Regions from separate parts of the Homo sapiens genome. Here region 2 is linked to region 1. Evidence: fine-mapped expression QTL. Tissue or cell type: whole blood. Region 1 holds a variant in brackets; the other region holds the start of a gene. All regions are shown on one strand. Distances are from middle to middle.

The links. PIP is the estimated chance that this variant, and not a neighbour inherited with it, causes the effect.
Region 2: UPF1 starts here. The variant in region 1 is the best candidate, but not a certain one, in a credible set for the expression of UPF1 in whole blood (INTERVAL, PIP 0.55).

What each region holds. Positions count from the first base shown.
Region 1 is chr19:18,858,190-18,861,028 of GRCh38, forward strand. UPF1 (UPF1 RNA helicase and ATPase) reads left to right here. Exons shown (of 24, transcript NM_002911.4): 16 at 2,132-2,249; 17 at 2,637-2,793. Among named protein-coding and RNA genes, the nearest start is that of UPF1, 28 kb to the left of the region's middle. The variant G/A (reference allele first, on the strand shown) is at 1,359.
Region 2 is chr19:18,830,832-18,833,500 of GRCh38, forward strand. UPF1 (UPF1 RNA helicase and ATPase) reads left to right here and starts at 1,128. Exons shown (of 24, transcript NM_002911.4): 1 at 1,128-1,609. The coding sequence starts at 1,379. RefSeq lists silencers at 932-1,191, 1,312-1,411, 1,562-1,651, 1,662-1,741.

The DNA of each region.
Region 1 (2,839 bases):
ACCCCAAGGTGTTGGGCAGACTTTTTCCAAAAATGATCGAACCTGTCGCTTCATGGAGAACTAGTGGCAACATCTGTTACAGTAGTAAAATTCAAGTGAAAACCAGAATTTTGGAAAACTTAACGTCGCTTGCCATGAGCTTGGTGTCTTCCCAACACCTAGAGACTTTTCTGGTGAGGTCTGTGGGGGTGACAGATGGAATGTTTCCACCATTGCCAGTGAAATGTGTCAGCCTTTGGAAGACCTACTTGACTCGGTGGGAGATCCTTCCTGAATGACCAGCAGAGTGTCACGAAGTCACATGGGGATGGAGTGGCAAAGAGTTGTCACAGGCCTGCAGAAACCCACCTTTGTCCAGCTTGATGTGGCCTCAGGGCTGGAGACTCCCAGCCATGCAGAAAGGCTGTAAAAACAAACCCATCTCCCTTTCCAGCCTCAGGCATCCATGAGGCCTGGCTTCCCCACAGCGTCCCCAGAGCCCAGGAGGGTGGACTGAGCAGAGGTGGACCCCAGGGCCCAGCTGCCTCCGATTCAGCCAGATAGTAAGGAGATTTGCAGAAATGGGAGACAGGACCACTCTTCTTACTTAGCTTATTTTTGGAGAAATAACTAACACGTAATGGGTTATTTTTAAATGAATTAATATATTTTTTAAATTTCCAAGTTTAGAGAATACAGTTATCCAATAAACAAAAGCTGTTTGGACTCCCTAACTTTTGAGAGTGTAAAGGGTCCTGAAAGCTGCCGACACAGCGCCTCATGAACTCCAAACCTGTGAGGTTGGTATTGTCAGGCCTAGTTACAGGAGAAAGTGAGGCTCAGAGCCCACCCCCCGGGTTGGGCCACACCACTCTTTGCCTAGCGGTAGGTCTTGGGAGTTGATGCCACTATTGACATCGCAGGGACACCGCTGTTCCCAGCGCATGGCAAGGCTGAAAACACAAGGCCACAGAGACCTAGCTTGTGCTCTGGGGTGTCTGAGCACTGGCTGGGAAAGGCGTGGCTCGGCGCAGGCTCAGACCCCTCATGGTCCCCAGGGCATCGGCCCAGAGGGCAGACGCTGGTGCACACTGCTCTCTAATTGATGCACAGCACGTAGTTCACACCCAGGAAGTACATTTTAGGAAATTCTCTATTGAAGTGTAAACATGTGGCCACATTACAAGTGTCTGGCTCAATGAGTGGTTACTAAGTGAGCATATTTGGATAGCCAGCACCTGAACCCAGAACCACCTGACCAGCTGTGAGAAGCCGCCTCATCCCTGCAGGTGGCCACTGTCCAGGGGTGCGCATCCACAGCAGCCCCTGGGCTGAGGGACTTCTGAGCTCATCCGGCGGCCCCTGTGCTCGCTGTAACA[G/A]CAGTGATCCACTTGGCCTCATTTTCAGCTCGACGTGGGATCATATGATGTGTCCTGGCGTGTCTGGCTTCCTCTGTCCATGTCAGGCTGGTGCTGTGCAAAAACACCGGTTTTCTCCACTGATGGAAGCTCCCAGTAGAGTGAGGAGGGCACCTGTGAATTGAGAAACTGGTTTTACAGTTTTAAGGAAACGCAACAGGGCCCAGAAAAGCCAAGATGAGCATGAAGAGCCCGAAGAAAGTGGCTGCTCACATGGCAGGACGCCCCGGCCCCCAAGCTGCAGTGTTGGGCCCCGGCCCAGGAGGGAGCCCAGAGGCAGAGCCACCGGTCAACAGGCCCTCAGCAGGAATGGACAAGGCTGCAGGGCAGGGGGACACTGTTGGCTCAACAGTGTCACACACAAGTCAGTTGTAGGGGCTGTGGCGCCTTTAAGGCAAGCTTCTGGAAGGAAGCAGGAGAATATCCTGTATCCTGGGGTTGGCAGAGATCCAGGCTGCAAGAAAGCCCTGGCTGAGACCCTGTTCCCTGTTCAGGGGCTGAGCCAGCTCTGTGCTGGCCATGGTGCTCTCGGTGGCCTCTCCTCAGCCTTGCCCAATCCTGGGCATCTCTGGCCAGGGGACCGGCTCAGGTGACCTCACCAGGGCCTCACAGATCGAAGTCTCCTGCCCCAGGACCTGCAGCACTGTAGCGTAGCAACTACATTGCCCTGTGTCTGAACTCATTTGAGGCGGGCTAGGGCTTTTGAAGTGTTACTTCTTTCCCTCCCCTCACAGCGGATCGTGTGAAGAAGGGATTTGACTTCCAGTGGCCCCAACCCGATAAACCGATGTTCTTCTACGTGACCCAGGGCCAAGAGGAGATTGCCAGCTCGGGCACCTCCTACCTGAACAGGTGAGCAGGGACAGGCCCACCGGCGTCTGCAGGTCTTGGGGACAGCTTGAGAGGTTGTTGACCCATTCTACTTATTTTTAACATGGGACTGAAACTTTTTTTGCCTTCATTTCCTGTTTAGCCTGTTTAGACTCTAAACCGTGTTGTTTCTGCCTCCTTTTCCATTGTACTTGTTTTTTATTGGGCAGATACTTGCTAATCCCACATGGCAGCCGTTTCTGCCCCTCGAGACTCCCCTGGTGAAGGCTGGGGAAGCTCAGCTGTGCAAACGCCAGTGATGGCAGCTGCCTTCCCGCAGGGTGTTGTGTCTGCACCCCTCACGGCCTCCAGCCTCAGGGCTCGGGATCCCACAGGTGGAGCCCAGCACTGACAGCCTGGGTTTCTTAGGACCGAGGCTGCGAACGTGGAGAAGATCACCACGAAGTTGCTGAAGGCAGGCGCCAAGCCGGACCAGATTGGCATCATCACGCCCTACGAGGGCCAGCGCTCCTACCTGGTGCAGTACATGCAGTTCAGCGGCTCCCTGCACACCAAGCTCTACCAGGTGCGCTGCGCCCTCGGGCACACTTGGTCTCCTGGGCCATGCAAGG
Region 2 (2,669 bases), 27 kb before region 1:
TAATAACAGTGGCAGAGGCATCAGGAACAGCAGCAACCATCATTTCCAAGTGCCAGGCCCAGTACGTAAGACTATCCCCATTCATTTATTTTTACTTATTTTTGAGACAGGGTCTCGCTCTGTCACCCAGGCTGGAGTGCAGTGGTGCAATCTCGGCTTACTGCAGCCTCAACTTCCCAGGGTCAAGCGATCCTCCCACCTCAGCCTCCCTAGTAGCTGGGACTACAGGTGCGAACCACCACGCTTAGCTAATTTTTTTTTTTTTTTTTGAGACAGAGTCTCACTCTGTTGCCCAGGCTGGTGTGCAGTGGCACAATCTTGGCTCACTGCAACCTCCGCCTCCTGGGTTCAAGCGATTCTCCTGCCTCAGCCTCCTGAGTAGCTGGGACTACAGGCTCGTGCCACCACGCCTGGCTAATTTTTTGTATTTTTAGTGGAGACGGGGTTTCACCATGTTAGCCAGGATGGTCTCGATCTCCTGACGTCATGATCCACCCGCCTCGGCCTCCCAAAGTGCTGGGATTACAGGCGTGAGCCACCGCGCTCGGCCTAATTTTTATATTTTTTGTAGAGATGGAGTCTCACTCTGTCTCCCAGGCTGGTCTCGAACTCCTGAGTTCAAGCAGTTCTCCCGCCTCAGCCTCTGAGTGTTGGGATTACAGGTGTGACCACCGCGCCGAGCCCCACTCCCTTTTTAAACCAATGCACAGGGAGCATCTACTATGTGCGAGGCACCCTCCATTTTACAGATGGGGAAACTGAGTTCCAAGCAGCTTTTGCCAGGAGTGGGAGCGCACCGTCCCTGCCCAGTCTCTCCAGTTGGGCGTTCCGAGACCACCTATGTAGGGTATTCGGCTAGCGCTCAATTAAACCGAAACACCGTCGCAGCGACCACAGGTGCAGACCACCAAGTCCACACCGCCAGCCGCCCGGGCGTCCCCAATTAGCAGTTGGGGCGGGACCAAGTCCTCGAGCTGCCGCCGCAGCGGCGGTTGAAAGCCCCACCCCCTGCGCGTGCGCGGTGCGCGTCCCGTCTTCCTGCTGGGCACCAGGCGCCCGCGAAGAGCGCGCGCGCTTCCGCCGGCGTCGGGCTCGCGCACGCGCACGGCGACGGCGGCGGTGGCGGCAGTTCCTGCTCTAGGCTGCGAGCGGCTGGCGGCTTCGAGGGGAGCTGAGGCGCGGAGGGGCTCGGCGGCAGCGGCGGCGGCTCGGCACTGTTACCTCTCGGTCCGGCTGGCGCCGGGGCGCGCGGTTTGGTCCTTTCCGGGCGCGCGGGGGCGACAGCGGCAGCGACCCGAGGCCTGCGGCCTAGGCCTCAGCGCGGCGGCGGGCTCGAGTGCAGCGCGGAACCGGCCCGAGGGCCCTACCCGGAGGCACCATGAGCGTGGAGGCGTACGGGCCCAGCTCGCAGACTCTCACTTTCCTGGACACGGAGGAGGCCGAGCTGCTTGGCGCCGACACACAGGGCTCCGAGTTCGAGTTCACCGACTTTACTCTTCCTAGCCAGACGCAGACGCCCCCCGGCGGCCCCGGCGGCCCGGGCGGTGGCGGCGCGGGAGGCCCGGGCGGCGCGGGCGCGGGCGCTGCGGCGGGACAGCTCGACGCGCAGGTGAGCGGCACATGGCGGTGCCGGAAGCCCGGGCCCGGCCTCGGCGCCTGAGACCTGCCCCGAACTCGCCTCGGGCCCGGCCTGTGTTTGGCCGGAGTCCCCCATCGCGGCCGGGCCTGGGGCGATCTGCCCCGGGTCCCCTACTCTGGCTCGGCCTGAGCTTACCTGCCCCAGGTCCTGCAATCTGCCCGGGCCTGGCCTGATCTGCCCCGGGTCCCCCGCTCCGGCCGCGACCTGGCTGAGTTCCTTCGGCCCCCAACTCCTGGGCCGGGCAGACTTGCCTCGAGTCCTCCACTTCGTTCGGGACCGAGCTAACCTGACCCTGTTCCTTTACGCCAGCTGGGTTTGCTCCCCCTCCTGGGCCCGGGCTGACCTGCCTTGTGTCCCACAATCAGTCTGGCCTGGAGTAACCTGCCCCCTGACTTATCTGAGTTCTTCCATTCCATCCGGGCTAGGGTGACCTGCCCTGGTCCCTCTTTCGCAGGTCTCGGTATTCTGCCTCGAGTTCTCCTACGACCTGGGCCGGGTCTTGCTCAGGCCGGAGCTTGAGTGACTTCCCTCAGTCCCTTTCCGGGAGTATCCAGGGTGACCTGCCCTAATCCTGTCTCTGGCCTGGTCCGGGGGTCCTGCCCGGTCTCCCCATTGGTGGGTCTGGCCGCCTGTCCCACCTCCCATCTGTGGTCGCAGCCATCTGGGCACCCCACCTTTCACAGTCACGGAGCGTAGGTTCGACTTTCCCCATGCATAGGGGCGCTGGCCAGCGGAAGGTTGAGGCAGAGAAGAATTTTTGCCTCCCATGGAGGAGCACATATTGGCTGGCTATTAAGATCATTCAGGAAGCAGGTTGTATTTTGTTTTTTCTTGCATCGCCTGTTGCTGAAACCGACCTGTTACATAACTTCACAACTCTTGCCTTGGAAAAGTTGGGTTTGAGTTTTGTTCTTCCAATAAGACAGCAATAATGGCTTTACATAAACGAGTCTGCCACGTTGGAAACTTATTTTTAATGATGTGGATGTTTAGAGAAGGTTACTTAGGTATTTTAAATGGGGGCTTGGGT